Regions from separate parts of the Homo sapiens genome. Here region 2 is linked to region 1. Evidence: fine-mapped expression QTL. Tissue or cell type: monocytes. Region 1 holds a variant in brackets; the other region holds the start of a gene. All regions are shown on one strand. Distances are between the middles of the regions.

The links. PIP is the estimated chance that this variant, and not a neighbour inherited with it, causes the effect.
Region 2: it holds the start of RBMS2, and the variant in region 1 is fine-mapped to the expression of RBMS2 in monocytes (Fairfax 2014, PIP 0.95).

Annotation. Positions count from the first base shown.
Region 1 is chr12:56,586,531-56,594,633 of GRCh38, reverse strand. RBMS2 (RNA binding motif single stranded interacting protein 2) reads right to left here. Exons shown (of 14, transcript NM_002898.4): 10 at 7,708-7,785; 11 at 6,970-7,080; 12 at 6,260-6,340; 13 at 5,616-5,702; 14 at 1-5,494. The coding sequence ends at 5,622. It also overlaps the pseudogene RNU6-343P. Among named protein-coding and RNA genes, the nearest start is that of BAZ2A, 40 kb to the left of the region's middle. The variant A/G (reference allele first, on the strand shown) is at 4,993.
Region 2 is chr12:56,518,411-56,526,494 of GRCh38, reverse strand. RBMS2 (RNA binding motif single stranded interacting protein 2) reads right to left here and starts at 4,675. Exons shown (of 14, transcript NM_002898.4): 1 at 4,406-4,675. The coding sequence starts at 4,471. RefSeq lists an enhancer at 3,497-4,240.

The sequences.
Region 1 (8,103 bases):
AACTCCTATGGAAGTCCATAGCTGACTCCTATGGAAGGCCTACCAAATGAGGAAATTTCAGGAATTTGCTAATGCGTGGGAGGATTGAAAATGTAGGCAGCACAGAAATAGAGTAGTTGGTTTAAACGGGAATCAGGAAGGATTGGTATAACAAGGCACAAGATTTGGAATTTACCCTTTACAGACTGGCTTTTATAACACCCACCCTCGTCTCTGAAGCCTGCTGATTCAGGGCTAGCAGAGCCTAGGGGCAAGTTTGGGCCAGATCACCCACCCAGTTTATTGCCCTTGGCTAAGAATGCAAAGCCCCTCATGAGCGCAATGCTGCCACTTGCCCAGAAGGTGGGGCATGTGCACAAGGCAGCAGCAATAGTTCTTTTCTAGAAGACTAATAGCCACTGCTACTAGGGATTCCTAGGACATTCCAGCAAGGCCTCTCACAGCATCATATGACGCAAAGTAACAGCCCACGGGTTGACATTGGAGTGACAGGCCTCAACTCCCAATGGGTTGACATTGGAGTGACAGGAGTAGGCACTGGAGGCACTAAGGGAGGGTGAGTGAGCTGATTGTCAAGTTAGGAAAGGAAAACGAATGGAGTGGAGCTGAAGTGGCCCAACCCAGCGCATGGCCTGTGAAGCAGCAAAGTCTGGTCTTCATCTTCAATATGAGTAATGTCCTCTTACCACTCCTTATCTGTTACTGACAAGGTCTATTACCCTTTAGAGCCACCAGGCTTCCTGGCCTGGGCAACTCTACAAATTCTTTAGTTAAAAACACTACAAAGGGCCGGGTGCAGTGGCTCACGCCTGTAATCCCAGCACTTTGGGAGGCCAAGGCAGGTGGATCATTTGAGCCCAGGAGTTCAACACCAGCCTGGGCAATGTGGCAAAACCCTGTCTCTACTAAAAATACAAAAATTAGCCAGGCATGGTGGCAGGCACCTGTAATCCCAGCTACTCAGGAGGCTGAGGCAGGAGAACTGCTTGAACCCAGGAGATGGAGGTTTCAGTGAGCCAAGATCACGCCACTGCACTCCAGCCTGGGCGACAGAGCGAGACTCCGTCTCAAAGAAAAAATAAAAATAAAAAAACTGAAAAGGCCAGGTGTGGTGGCTCATGCCTATAATCCCAGCACTTTGGGAGGCCGAGGTGGGTGGATCATTTGAGCCCAGGAGTTCGAGACGAGGCTGGGCAACATGGCGAAAACCTGTCTCTATTAAAAATACAAAAATTAGCTGTTTGGAGGTCAGGAGTTGGACACTAGCCTGGCCAACGTGGTAAAACCCCATCTCTACTAAAAATAAAAAAATTAGCCAGGCATGGTGGCACAAGCCCATAGTCCCAGCTACTTGGTGGCCGGGGAAGGGGTGGCTGAGGCAAGAGGATCACCTGAGCCTTGGGAGGTCGAGGCTGCAGTGAGCCATTATGGTGCCACTGCACTCCAGCCTGGGCCACAGAGTGAGACCCTGTCTCAAAAAAACAAAACAACAAAACCAAAAAACCAAAAACATTAAAAACAACATCTCATCCAAGCATGGAGGCTCACACCTGTAATCATAGCACTTTGGGAGGCTGAGGTGGGAGGCTCACTTGACAGGAGTTCAAGACCAGTCTGGGCAACATAGTAAGACCCCTGTCTCTACAAAAACTTAAAATAACGAACTGGGCTTGGTAGTATGTGCCTGTACTTCCAGCTACTTGGGAGGCTTAGGTGGGAAGAACCCTTGGGCCCAGGAATTCAAGACTGTAGTAGACTACGACTGCATCACTGCACTCCAGCCTGGGTGACACAGCAAGACCATCTCTAAAAAATAAAATAAAGGCCGGGCGCGGTGGCTCACGCCTGTAATCCCAGCACTTTGGGAGGCTAAGGCGGGCAGATCACCTGAGGTCAGGAGTTCGAGACCAGCCTGGCCAACATGGTGAAACCCCATCTCTACTAAAAATAAAAAAATTAGCCGGGCATGGTGGTGGGTGCCTGTAATCCCAGCTACATGGGAGGCTGAGGCAGGAGAATTGCTTGAACCTGGGAGGCGGAGGTTGCAGTGAGCCGAGATCGTGCCATTGCACTCCAGCCTGGGCGACAGAGCAAGACTCTGTCTGAAAAAATAAAATAAAATAAAAACATCTCTCTCCATCATCATCTCCACATCTTCCTGACCTCTCTACTGGCACCCTCCTCCAAAAAGTCCAATCAGTTTAGGGTCTGAGTATCATCTCAGAGCCTGAGATGAGGAGTAATAACACCGATAGGAGATGGCTAGGCAGGCTCAGAGCCTATAAAGGATTATGCCATCTGAGGAAAGGACTCTAGTGTGTTCTAGCTGACTGAAAACAGAAAAATGCCAAGTACTAAAATATTTTAAGAATGTTATGAGCATCTGTAATGAGTGGGGGTGAGATGTAAAGTACAAAGAGAGTAAGAGCTGGGCTCCATGAAGACAGCATTCAGAAAACACTAGGCATAGTGTTTAAGAGCCCAACCCTTGGCTGTGAGCTGGAAGGCTCCCCTATGTTTCCTTCTGCCATCAACCCAACCAATTAGACTATTTCATGGGAGAAACAGTATCCCTCCTTTCTTCTCCCTCCTTTCCTCCAAACACTCACCCACTGTTACAAATGAACTAACAATTAGGAGAGGAAATGAGTGTAAACCAAATGCACCAAAAAAGAAATTCCTCAGTGCCATTAGCCACTGCAAAATAACTTCAGGCCCCCATCACTTCCCATGCCCAAACCAGAAACACTCATTAATACAATCTAACAAGTAGATTCACATGAGAAGAACTCCAAAAGGTAAATTCAAAATTCAAAACAAAAAATTAGAGCCATTTAAACATTTTAAAATATATATATAGAGAGAGAAAGAAGACAGAATCAGGAGTTCTGTGAGGCAGAGGAGAGGGGAGTGGCAATATCAACAATGGTTTCTATGCGTGAAAGGCCCTTCCTAAACCTCCTACCATAGCAAAGCTCCCCCGGTCTATCAGATGAACAGAATTCTAGATTTGTTTTCTCTTTCTCTCAAAGGCCACTGACAAGAAAGCAGCTATGGTATATTTTCCTTGACTGAGGGCTGGAGACTCAAAAACAAAAGCTATCTGCCCAGCCAGAGCCCTCTAGAAGGTTGCTGGGCTTGGGGCTATTTTACACTGGATAAGCCCTTCCTGAGTTTGGAAGCATCAATTAGAAGACTGCGGCAATTTGTCCTTTACGCTTTATATCCTACCCATTGCCCCGCACTCCCTCACCCCTAGGATGTACATAGAAAGTCGACACTAGGGGCACTGGGACTCTCAATTCTAGGGTGGCTGGGAAGGGAGGGAAAGCTGGGCCGAGCTCTACTTGTGACAACTGATACTACAGTTTCTTTTCCCCTGCTGTCACCCCCTTCCTCTCCCTATGGCCAGCCTAATGAACACCTGTCTCTCTATCCTCCATTATTTGCCTTTGTCTGACTGTCTAGTGGAGAGGCACCTGGCCTTGAAGTGCAAGGGAGTCAAATTCTCCTTTCAGTGCATAAGGGAGTGACTGGGAGAAGACAAGAGCAGGATTTTATTTCCTAGAAGATGGGTGAAGTCTTTCTTCAATCTGTCTCCATGTGTATAGAGTCACATCTTGCAGAAGGGGACAGTTAAAGACCAAGACATAGGCTTTTTTAAAGGACTCCTGACCTCATAAAGAGTTGGAATTTATTGCTCTTTGCTACCCTAGCTCCCCGTTGTCCTTCCACAGAAGGAACATTATTTCTGATGTCCTGGTTCCCTGGGCAAAGGGTCCAAGCACACCGGGGCAGGGCAGGTTGCTCTGGACAGTTTAGAGAGCTTTGTCCTTTCCCACCATTGCACAGCACACACCAGAACAATGCCCACCTGAATCCCTCTGAGTACATGTGTGCATTCAGCATGGAGCCACAGCTCTTTCAAGAATCACTCTTGCTATATGCAGAGTTATCAAAAGTCAAAGTCTGGGGAGAATTCAAGGATCCCAGTCCAGTCCTTCCCCAACAGTTGCATGAGTGTCAAAAGGCACTGTTTGTCCAGGGTTGGGGTGAAAATTTACCCTAACCCAGGAGGCAGGGACAACACTGTCTATATCAGTGTTTCCCAGTCTTGGCAATATTGACCCCTGGAGTCAGATAATTCTTGGCTGGGGGTAGTGGGGACTATCCTATGCAGTGTAGGATGTTTAGCAGCCACTAGATGCCAGTAGCACACACATCCCACCTCCAGGCGTGGCAATCAAAACTGTCTCTAGATGTTGCCAAAGGCCTGAGGGACAAAACCACCTCTGATTGAGAACTCCTGGTCTGTGAGTGAAGCAGCAGATCTTCCACCGTGTGGAAGGAGCCTATGTGGATTCAACTAGGTCGCAGCTGCAAAGGCTCTGAGCACAGCAATGTGTAACAGGGAAGAGAGGGGCCATGAAGCCCAGGACAGAAAATATCCTCCAGGAGGCAAGAAAGCAGGTACTCCCAAAAAGCTATACCTCAGATGCTGTTGGCCTTGGCAGTGAGAAGAGTTGATAAAAGTCAGTAAGTCCATTCTTCCGGAACTTGCCAGGGAAGACCTAGTCTTCAACCAAGTTTGGCTCAAGGGTGTGTTCCCAGGGCTGTGGAGTTGTCTCTTTAGTAAGCCTGGGTCACATCTGTGCTTTCTGAAGCCAAAGTCTAGTTTTTTCTCCCAGGGTGTGGCAGGGTGGGGGAAAGAACAGCCACTTCCATGGCCTACTTAGTGTTCTGCCTTGTTCCTTGCCCAGCCTGCCCCCCAACCCCAAATTCCACATGAAATTTCATTTTTAAAAATCCATAAAATTAAAAGCTGTAAAAGGGCAAAGTAGGCAGGCTCAGCTGTTTAGAAAAGAGAAAAAGAAGAATCTGGACAAGAGAAAGAAGGCATAATATGGGTGAAGAGGAGATGGGGTGCATGAGCTGAGAGCTTTACAAAATAACATTTTTAGAGCCTGCATACTTTTTAAAACACATACACAC[A/G]TGCATCAAAAAAGTCCATAACTAAGCTCAGTAAGTAGGGCTCCTTCATCGATGTTCCAGCACCACACCTTTCTGTTCTGTTTTGGTTTGTAAAGAAATAATTACAAATTGTTTTAAAAGCATTCCCAAATAATTCCAATACATCGAAAACTTTTTCATATAGATGAGAAGCTGCGACCACCATGTCTCTTCAAGGTAGGGGAAAAGTACGTTGCAGTTAAAAACAAAAAGCTTTCTTTGCAAAAGAAGAAAAGTTTTTTTGATCTCCTTGAATGTAGCACACAAAAAAAGTGATGGTTCCCCCAGGCTCCATCAGCAATAGTAAAGGGCAGGAACGTAGAGATTTCTTTTTCCAGGCCCAGGCCTGTGAAAAACGATGGCTAAGTGTTAGTCCTTAGCAGGGCCGACGGATGGTCTCCATTCCTGGTTAACCCTCTGGAATCTGGGAGCATGAGTATCTCCAAGAATTCATTTCTATTCAGTAAAGATGGGGAGGGGAATCCTAAAGAAGGCACAAGCCAGAGAGGAGACAAGACAAACATGAGAACCTGTCTGACTTCAGGCCGGGCTGAGCTGCTGTCTGCCAGTGCAGCCCTCCCTGCCCCCCAGCATGTGGTTCTTACCCACTGTTACTTGTTGAACTGGAAAGAATAGACCCCATGCTCTGAGGGTGCGTCCACTGCCACTTGGTTCTGTTGGCCGCTGCTCTCCTGTGCCATAGCCAAGGAGGGGGGTCATCTTGCGCATTCCTTTCCTCACCTCCACTACAGCAGCCTGACCAAAGCCCACCCTACATCGAGTGCCCTCCCAAACCTACCCACTCTCCACACTCATGTGTGAGTGTTTCCACCCACACCACCACTTCCCCAACCTTCCTACAGCCTGTCCTCTTCCCAAGACGCATTAGTCAATACAAGCCAGCATCCTGGTGTCAACTACTGGCTGGCCAAATGTAAGGAAGGGCCTCATTCATGAACTCAGACCAAGTCCTTCTTTCCTACATCTGCTGTTGTTTTTTTTTTAAATATGGAACGCTTCACAAATTTGCATGTCATCCTTGCACAGGGGCCATAATCTTCTCTGTATTGTTCCAATTTTAGTATGCATGCTGCCGAAGCGAGCACATCCTTCCTACGTTCTTCGTATACCTACCAGCTATTTGTGAACACAGAATCAGCATCATTGTGAGAGAAAGATCTTGATCAGGGGGAAACCTGCCTCCGTTCATTTTCCTAATCTCAATCCAAAGAAATGATAACACCCTTACCTCGACTGAAACACTGGAAGAAGGCACAGGGGTGTACTGGGAGATGTAAGCTCCTTGCATAGCTGCAGCCGTCGGCATATACTAGAAAGAGAAACATCAACAGGCTTACAGCAGTGATTTTTGGCTACATTTGAAGCAGCTGAGGGGCTTTAAAAAAAATACTGACACCTGTATTCTACCCCAGAGATTCTATTTTAATTGGTCTGAGCATTTGCATCTTAAAAGCACTTCAGGTGGTTCTAAAGTACACTGTTAGGGAGACGTCTCCCTATATGACTTATTTTCCTCCTCTTTCCTGACTTTCTTCTGCTTTTCCTCAACACACTCCCTTCTCTACCCTTGAGCCCTTTCTATGCAAAAAGGAATGCAGTAGGCCTAAAAGAAACCTAATGAGCTTCCTCCATCCTTCCAGGTACTATTTTGATGAGGATTCCTAGGACGTGTGTGTATCTTAAACTAATATGCAGACAGAAGCACTATTCACAAGGTGCATGAGTAGGAATCAGTTAAAAGGGGTGGGCTGGGGAGCAGAATGGCTGTATTCCTGGCTCATGGAGCACTACCATTGTAGTTTATGTCCTGTTCTGAGTGTGCCCCGGATGACACTGAAGTAATTCCATCATTATTCATAAGTTACTTACGCTGAAGAGTATTACACAGGTATGCCTTGCTCAGTAGGAGAGTTTACAATCAGAAATATCCTGCTTTACCGTGCCTGTGCTGCTGAGGGAGAGATGGCCCAGTTGCTGGGTAAGGGGTCCCATCATGGAGGCAGGCTGGAGAGAAATGGGATGGTCCATCCCTGGTGTCAGAACTGAACCCTAGAGGCAGCAACAAAGGACAGGGTTAGCTGCAGCATCCTGTGAGGCTGCCTAAAGCAGTGATCGGTGGCTGTCAGGACCACTGGAGACAGACATTTAAGAATCCTGGGAAATGGTAAGTGAGCAGCAACCCAACTATGCAACAAGAATAGGAACTCTGCCTGTCAGTGTGGAAGGACCCTCGTCTAAGAATAACAAGCTTAGGTCTTACTGCTGGGTTGCACAAGGGTCTGAGCCAGAACTCACACCCACATCTCCTGGCATCAAAGGCCTTTTTTTTTTTTTTGAGACGGAGTTTCACTCTTATTGCCCAGACTGGAGTGCAATGGCACGATCTCAGCTCACTGCAACCTCTGCCTCCCGAATTTAAGCAATTCTCCTGTATCAGCCTCCTGAGTAGCTGGGATTACAGGCACCCGCCACTACACCTGGCTAATTTTTGGCATTTTTAGTAGAGACAGGGTTTTGTCATGTTGGCCAGGCTGGTCTCGAACTCCTGACCTCAGGTGATTTGCCTGCCTTGGCCTCCCAAAGTGCTGGGATTACAGGCGTGAGCCACAGTGCCCAGCCAGTTTTTTCTTTACATCAAATTGCCTCTTTGGCTTCTGCCCACTTCTGAATACTCACTGAAGGCTGCATGAGGTATGAATGGTGGTGCATCCAGGATGGGTTAGGTACTTGTAGAGGAGATGTCTGAGTCACTCTCTAAAACAAGCAAAAACAAAAATGTTAATTGCCTGGAAACTATTATTCAGCCCACAGATCTAATAATGTTCAACAAAGCTCAGAAAAGTTTGAATGCCCCACTCAAAATAGAAACATTAAGAAAAACTGTTTTTAAAATATTAGCAATTCTTAAAACTCAATAAATAATCCAGTTTAAAAAAGGGCAAAAAGGAGTTCAAAATTATAGTGAGCTATGATTCTGACACTGCACTCCAGCCTGGGCGACAGAGTGAGACCCTGTCACTAAAAAAATTAGTAAAAAAAAAAAAGGGTTTGGAAAGATATCTCTCTAAGAAG
Region 2 (8,084 bases), 68 kb after region 1:
ATTAGGCATTATACATTTGTTGACGGCATTCCCATATTTACCACCAGCCAATAAAGAGTAAGAAAACTATGACTGTCATGGGCTCCTCAGGAAACATCTTTCCTGATAAGTGAAGTATGTATTTCAAAATAAAATAATCCTACCTTTTATGTTTTATTTTATTTTATTTTATTTATTTATTTATTTTTGAGATGGAGTCTCACTCTGTTGCCCAGGCTGCAGTGCAGTGGCACAATCTCGGCTCACTGCAACATCCACCTCCTGGGTTCAAGTGATTCTCCTGCCTCAGCCTTCTGAGTAGCTGGGACTACAGGCGTGCACCACCATACCCGGCTAATTTTTGTATTTTCAGTATTGACGGGGTTTCACCATGTTGGCCAGGCTGGTCTCAAACTCCTGACCTTGAGCCATCTGCCCACTTCCACCTCCCAAAGAGCTGGGATTACAGGCGTGAGCACCAAAGTTAAATTTTTACAATAACTTTCATTAGTTTCAGTAAGAAACAGTAACTTTTATATAAAAGTTATATATAGGTAGGGCGTGGTGGCTCACGCCTGTAATCCTAGCACTTTGGGAGGCCGAGGTGGGCAGGTCACTTGAGGTCAGGAGTTCGAGAACAGCCTGGCCGACATGGTGAAACGCCATCTCTACCAAAAATATAAAAAATTAGCCAGGCGTGGTGGTGGGCCTCTGTAATCCCAGCTACTCAGGAGGCTGAGGCAGAAGAATCACTTGAACCCAGGAGTCGGAGGTTGCAGTGAGCTGAGATCGCCCCACTGCACTCCAGCCTGGGTGACAGAGCGAGACTCTGTCTCGAAAACAAACAACAAAAAAGTTATATATAAAAGTTGGCTGAGGTGGGAGGCTCGCTTAAGCCCAGGGGTTGGAGATTGTAGTGAGCCGAGATCATGGCACTGTCCTCCAGCCCAGACTGCAGAGTGATACCCTGTCTCAAAATAAATAAATAAATAAATGGGCCAGACAGTGGCTCACGCCTGTAATCCCAGCACGTTGGGAACCCGAGGCAGGCAGATTGCTTGAGGCCAGGAGTTCAAGACCAGCCTGGGCAACATGGCAAAACCTCGTCTCTACTAAAATTAGAAAATTTAGCTGGGCCTGGTGGCGCACACCTGTAGTCCCAGCTACCCAGGAGGTTGAGGCGGGAGAATCGCTTGAACCCAGGAGACTGAGGTTGCAGGGAGCCAGGATCGCGCCACTGGACTCCAGCCTGGGTGACAGGGTAAGACTCTGTCTCAAAATAAATAAATAAACAAATAAATAAAATTTAACTGAGTATGGAAAATACACAAATTACATAAGCAAATGCATCTACAACCCTTTCCAAAACAGAAACACAGTAAGCCCTACTTGACAAGACAAAGAGCAACGTAATAATGCTATAGTTTAAAAACACCCTCCCTGGTCATCTAGTGTTGAGGAAAAAAATTAAGTAAAATAAAAATAAAAATATGGGGCCAGGCGCAGTGGCTCATGCCTGTAATCCCAGCACTTTGGGAGGCCGAGGCAGGCAGATTACCTGAGGTCAGGAGTTCAAGACCAGCCTGACCAACATGATGAAACCCCGTCTCTACTAAAAATACAAAAAAATTAGCTGGGCGTGGTGGCGGGCACCTGTAATCCCAACTAGTCAGAAAGCTGAGGCAGGAGAATCACTTGAACCCAGGAGGCGGAGGTTGCAGTGAGCCGAAATCACGCCACTGCATTCCAGCCTGGGCGCGACAGAGCAAGACTCCATCTCAAATAAATAAATAAAAATATGGGCCAGGCTTGGTGACTCAAAGTATAATCTCAGCACTTTGGGAGTCCAAGGCAGGGCAGATCACTTGAGGTCAGGAGTTTGAGACCAGCCTGGCCAACATGGTGAAACCCCGTCTCTACTAAGAACACAAAAAAATTGTCCGGGTGTGGTGGCACTCCTGTAGTTCCAGCTACTTGTGAGGCTGAGGCAGAATTGCTTGAACCTGGGAGGCGGAGGCTGCAGTGAGCTGAGATCACACCACTGCACTCCAGCCTGGGTGACAGAGCGAGACTCCATCTCAAAAAAAAAAAAAGTAAAAATAAAAATATGAAAACCCTCCACGTTCACAAACTTATATAGGCACAAAAGGAGTCATATGCATGGCCACAGAGTGATGCACAGATACAGCATCCTTACATCTGATCATAACATTGACTTATAAGAACCCAAAGAATTGACAAATACATTAGTAATTAGTAATTATGTATCTACCTATCCTCCCCAACCAATTCCAACAATTCCTGAATTGTCAAACCTTACTAAGAGATTTCAACCCAAACCCACAACCATACCTCTTGTCCCCTATACTATCCTAGATTTAGAAGCTAATTAACTTTTTCCTATACTCCAAGGTGGGAGAGGGAGCAGAGAGCAAAAAGAGATTTTTAGATAGCTTCAAATACGTGAAACCTCTAATAGGGAAGCAATTCATTTTGGGAATTCATTTTATTTTAATGAGTTCTGGGTAACCTGAGAGAACTAGGAGGGAAAAAAATCAGGAAAGAAATTTTCACATGGTACTCTACAAGGTTTGAAAAGAATAAAGACATGTGAAATATTTCCCTTTCAAATATATACGTATAATATATAATGTATTATCTATACATATATTTGATAAAGGGATGTCAGTATATGTACATATAAACATATATTGATAACCAACAAATGTGTATAAACTCATATTTCATTTCTTTTTGAGATGGAGTCTTGCTCTGTCACCCAGGCTGGAGTGCAGTGGCACAATCCTGGCTCATTGCAACCTCTGTCCCCCAGGTTCAAGTGATTCTCCTGCTTCAGCCTCCTGAGTAGCTGGGATTACAGGCGCGTGCCACCAAGCCCAGCTAATTTGGGGTTTCACCATGTTGACCAGGCTGGTCTCGAACTCCTGACCTCAAGTGATCCACCCACCTTGGCCTCCCAAGTGCTGGGATTACAGGCATAAGCCACCATGCCCAGCCTCATTTCTTTTTTAAAGTAAATTTTATTGTGTATATTTAAGGTATACAACATGTTACGGGATACATATAGATAGTAGAAAGGTTACTATAGTGAAGTAAATTAATCATCCCACATAATTGTCCCTTTTGTTTCTTTTTGTGGCAAGAGGAGCTAAAGTCTGCTCATTTAGCATGAATCCCATATACAGTACAACTTTATCATCTATAGTCCTCATGTTGTACATTGGATCTCAGGATTTGTTCATCCTACATATCTACTACTTTGTATCCTCTGACCTATAGCTCCCCATTTCCTCTCCCCTCTACCCATATTTCTTCAGGATATAAACAAAATGAGTACCACACAGACTAAGCCCATAAATCAACATTAAGTGTTTTGGGTCTAAACATTTACCCACTGCATTGATCAGACACTTGTGTTTAAATCCACCTCTAATGGTCTCATTAGGTACATGAGAAAGCAGCAGGAATCGTTCCTCACCCTCCAACATTCCATTAGATGAGCAAAAGATTCCCTAAATGTCTATGTCACATTTTTTCTTCAAAGAACAGCTACAACACAAAGAGAGGGTAAAGAGTCTTCTTCCTGCTACAGCATGAAATTCCTCCTAATCAGTATGCTGTGCGCCCTGAAATGCCAGAAACTGCCAAATATATTCCTTGTCAAATATGGACAAGATTGTCCATCTCTCCCCATGTGCCCAAGGACAGCACAATTCTCTGGCAGCCATGGGTTAATCATAAAGACTCCTAGGATCACTGCAAAGTCTGGCTATCTGCAGAGGTCCAAGTATCAGTTCAAATACAAGATCCAAAGTATCACAGCGCTCTGTGCCTTAATCCCAAGGTGCGATGTCTCTCAAGACTCCTTCTCTATAGGCTGGGTGGGGTAGGATCTGTAGTCTAGAAGAGTATACCCAGCTCTTGATAAACTGTTGTGGTTTCTCTGACTATCTATGATTTCAGCTATCTAATACTACTGGTGGTATGGGTAGGAGGGAAGGTTGGGGAGAGAATGGAAACAGTTAATCAAAAAATAAAATAATCTTGTGGGGTGGGGTGGACTGGGGGACAGGGTCTGAAATGACATATTATCCTTGTGGAGATTGATACATCAGCAGGAAGTCAAACTAACTTCATTTCATAAGGATACAAACTTGCAAGCTTGATTTGTTTTTAATTCCCCTGTCTTTTCAGGCCTCGCAGAGACTGAAAGTTCCCTGAACTCCAGAACCAGTTGAGGAAAGATGCAGAAAGCAGTAGTGGAAAAGGGAGAAGCGCGGTGAGGAATTAGGAATCTTGAGAGAGGAAGCCCCTTCCCCTCTTTAAAAAGAATGTAAAAACCAAGGGCATTGCAAGATCCCCAGAAAAAGAAGTAGCTAGATACCAAAAAAGCGCTTTTCCCTACCTTCTTGTTGTTTCTATTGTAGCCAAAAGTCGAAATCCCGGGCCTGGAAGTCACGGATAGCAGCATTTTCTCTTTAATGTTAGGGAACGAGCGAGAGAGAGAGAGAGAGAGAAAGGGAGGGGGTAAGAAAGACGGGGAGGGAGGGAGGAGGGGAGCGAGGGAAAGGGGGAGAGGGAGGGAGGAAAAAAGGGAGGGGGAGGAGAAAGGAGGAGAAAAGGAGCAGGAGGAGAGAGATGAAGGGGGGCTGCGGGCAGAGAATGAGCTCGGGCTGCTCCTTTACGTCACTGAGAGAAGTTAACAGAGTCTGAATGAGGCAGAGGCACTTCCACTGGGTCCTAATGCCCAAGATGTTTTTTTTTGTTTGTTTTTCATAGTCTCAGGAGTTAAAGCTAGAAAGAAGAGTTCTTAGGTCTAACCCCTTTCAAATTTATCCCCTTTCCTCTATGAACAAGTTCCGATTCTCATATAAAGACAATGAGGGCTTTATTTCCACCCTTAGATCTCAGCTATAAGATTTCAAGCTTGATTTTAAAGGGGCTCCTGAGACATTGCCTTGGAGAACACGCAAAAAAAAAAAAAAAAAAAAACAGAGTTAGAGTGTGTGAGATAAGCTCAGGGCTTCCCCTACTTTACACTTACAGTGATTTTTTTTTTTTTTTTTTGAGACAGAGTTTTAGTCTGTCACCCAGGCTGAAGTGCAGTGGTGCAATCCCGGATCCGGCTCACTGCAACCTCCACCTTCCGCAATTCTCCTGCCTCAGCCTCTCGAGTAGCTGGGATTACAGGTGACCACCACCACACCCAGCTGATTTTTGTATTTTTTAGTAGGGACGGGGTTTCGCCATCTTGGCCAGGCTGGTCTCGAACTCCTGACCTCAAGTGATCCACCCACTCAACCTCCCAAAGTGCTGGGATTACAGGCATGAGCCACCACCCCTGGCCCATTTATAGTGATCTTAATGTACAAAGGAACAAACAGAGGAACACACCAAAGAGCAGAGCTAAGCAAAACAGAGTATGGGGTATAACTAGTTTCAGATCCTTAGATGTGTTTCTCTTGGGTCATACCAATGGGCTGATGCCCCTCACTCCTATTTCAGATTCTCCGAGGAATGAGTTCATACTTAAGAAGGAATTATCAGACTGGACTATATCATGAAACTTGGTGCCTTGTTATTTCTCTAACAATTGCAGGCTATCTTATTTAACACTTTACCCTGCTATTTCCTCATCTTTAAGATCCATGAAACTGAAACAATTACAGTAACTCACCAAACCTGGAGTTTATGTCTAAATTGAAGTCTACAGTTGGGATGTCTGCTTTGAGTTGTCTTTGAGCTGTTTAAAAAAAAAAAATACTTAAGAAGCATATGCTTCAACAGAATAAAAACACAAAATTCTTAGGAAGGAATACAAATTTCAGAGTCAAGAACCTAATAGAGTTGCAACACTTACCTCTACTAGTTTCCAAAGAATGTCTTTGTAGGCGTAACCTTAACAAGAAAGGAAACCAAAAACTTAAGAATGATATCCAGTAACCCCTACCAATCCAAGTGCAATAGGGATGTTAAATGAAAGCCTTCAAATCCCTTCATAAGGCCACCTTGCTGCCATCCTAAGTAGTTTCTTGAGATATAAATTAACCCTGTCTGTTTTGTGACAACAAATATTAAGCCCAAACCCTCCCTCAAATGAAGTTCTGGTCTCTATTCTAGTTTCCGTGTCACTTTTTTGCTATGATAATGGAACAGACAGTATTAGTATTCTGCAGAGTAAATATACATACCCTACCCCCAATCTCTAACTTTCATTTCCAATAGGACAGGAAGTGCCTGCTCAGCTCAGGGGACACAGGAAGGGTGGGAGAGCCTCAGTGTGGGAATTGCAACTGAGACTGGAAACACAGCAGCCAAATGCAGTAAATAAATAAATGAAGGCATCACTCAGTGATATCTTTTTTTTTTTCTGAGACAGAGTCTTGCTCTGTTGCCCAGGCTAGAGTGCAGTGGTGCTATCTTGGCTCACCGCAACCTCTGCGTCCCGGGTTCAAGCGATTCTCCTGCCTCAGCCTCCCGAGTAGCTGAGACTATAGGCATGCGCCACCATGCCCGGCTAATTTTTTTGTATTTTTAGTAGTCTTGTTGGCCAGACTGGTCTCAAACTCCCGACCTCAGGTGATCTGCCCGCCTTGGCCTCCCAAAGTGCTGGGATTACAGGAGTGAGCCACCGCGCCCGGCCCATATATATATATATATATATTTTTTTAAGTCCTTTTTCTGCTCTCAGAGACTCTCATTAACCAATTTATCCTTGCTGTTTAGGCCCTTGGATGATATCTTCTCCTTTACCCTAACAATGTGGTACAGAAACCTTTCTCTTGAAGGCCTGATTCATAAAGGCAATCAACCCAATTTAACTTTTTTTTTAAGTCTAATTTTTCTTTCTACTTTTTTTTTTTCCCCCTGAGACAGAGTCTCACTCTGTCGCCAGGCTGGAGTGCAGTGGTGCAATCTTGGCTCACTGAAACCTCTGCCTCCCGGGTTCAAACGATTCTCCCGCCTTAGCCTCCTGAGTAGCTGGTACTACAGGCATGTGCCACGACGCCCAGCTAATTTTTGTATTTTTAGTGGAGACGGGGTTTCACCATGTTGGCCAGTCTGGTCTCGAACTCCTGACCTCAGGCAATCCACCCGCCTTGGCCTCCCAAAGTGCTGGGATTACAGGTGTGAACCACGGCACCCGACCGAAAAATCTAAATTTTTATAATCTGGTAAATTAGGACCACAGAAGTAAAATGACCCGGATATGCAAACTGATGCCAAAGGTGTATTATGTTAAAGAGCACCAACAAAACTGGAAACTAAATCCTTCATTCTGGTGAGTATATGTATTATAAACATATATTTTTTTTTATGACAGGGTCTCACTCTGTCACCTAGGCTGGAGTGCAGTAGCACAATCACGGCTCACAACAGGCAGCTTTGACTTCCCCAGGTTCAGGTGATCCTCACACCCATCCCACCCCTCCCCACCCTGTAGCTGGGACTACAGGCATGCACCACCACACCTGGCTAACTTTTGTAATTTTTTTTTTTTTGGTAGAGACGGGGTTTCATCATGTTGCCCAGGCTGGTCTTGAATTCCTCAGCTCAAGCAATTTGCCCACCTCAGTCTCCAAAACTGCTGGCATTACAGGTGAGTATATTTGTAAAGGAGTTATGGAATTCTGTGGAAATGATGGGGAAGGTAATGGTGTTCTGTGGTTAGATTCAGGAAGTATACGGGAGGAGGAAGAATCCTACTTCCTCCAGTGTATTTACTTTGACGCCCTTCTGCTTTGCCCATTACATTGCCCACATTTTTCCAGATTTAGTCAATGCCTCTCTAATTCTTGGTTCTCATGAACCCAGCACTCAGGAATTGTTTTGAAGGGAAAAAAGCAAAATGAGAGTTATCTGTAACTTCTTTGGGGAAGAGACATTTGTACCTGATTCAATATAGGCTTGTTTGTGATTTCTCCAGAAAAACAACTCTTTTAAACAAGTGTCCAAGGTGAAGGAGTAGGGGCTAGGTCAACCCCAAAATGTAGCTGAAAAATGTCCCAGCACTTTGGGAGGCTGAGGTGGGCAGATTGCTTCAGTCCAGGAGTTCAAGACCAATGTGGGCAACATGGCAAAAC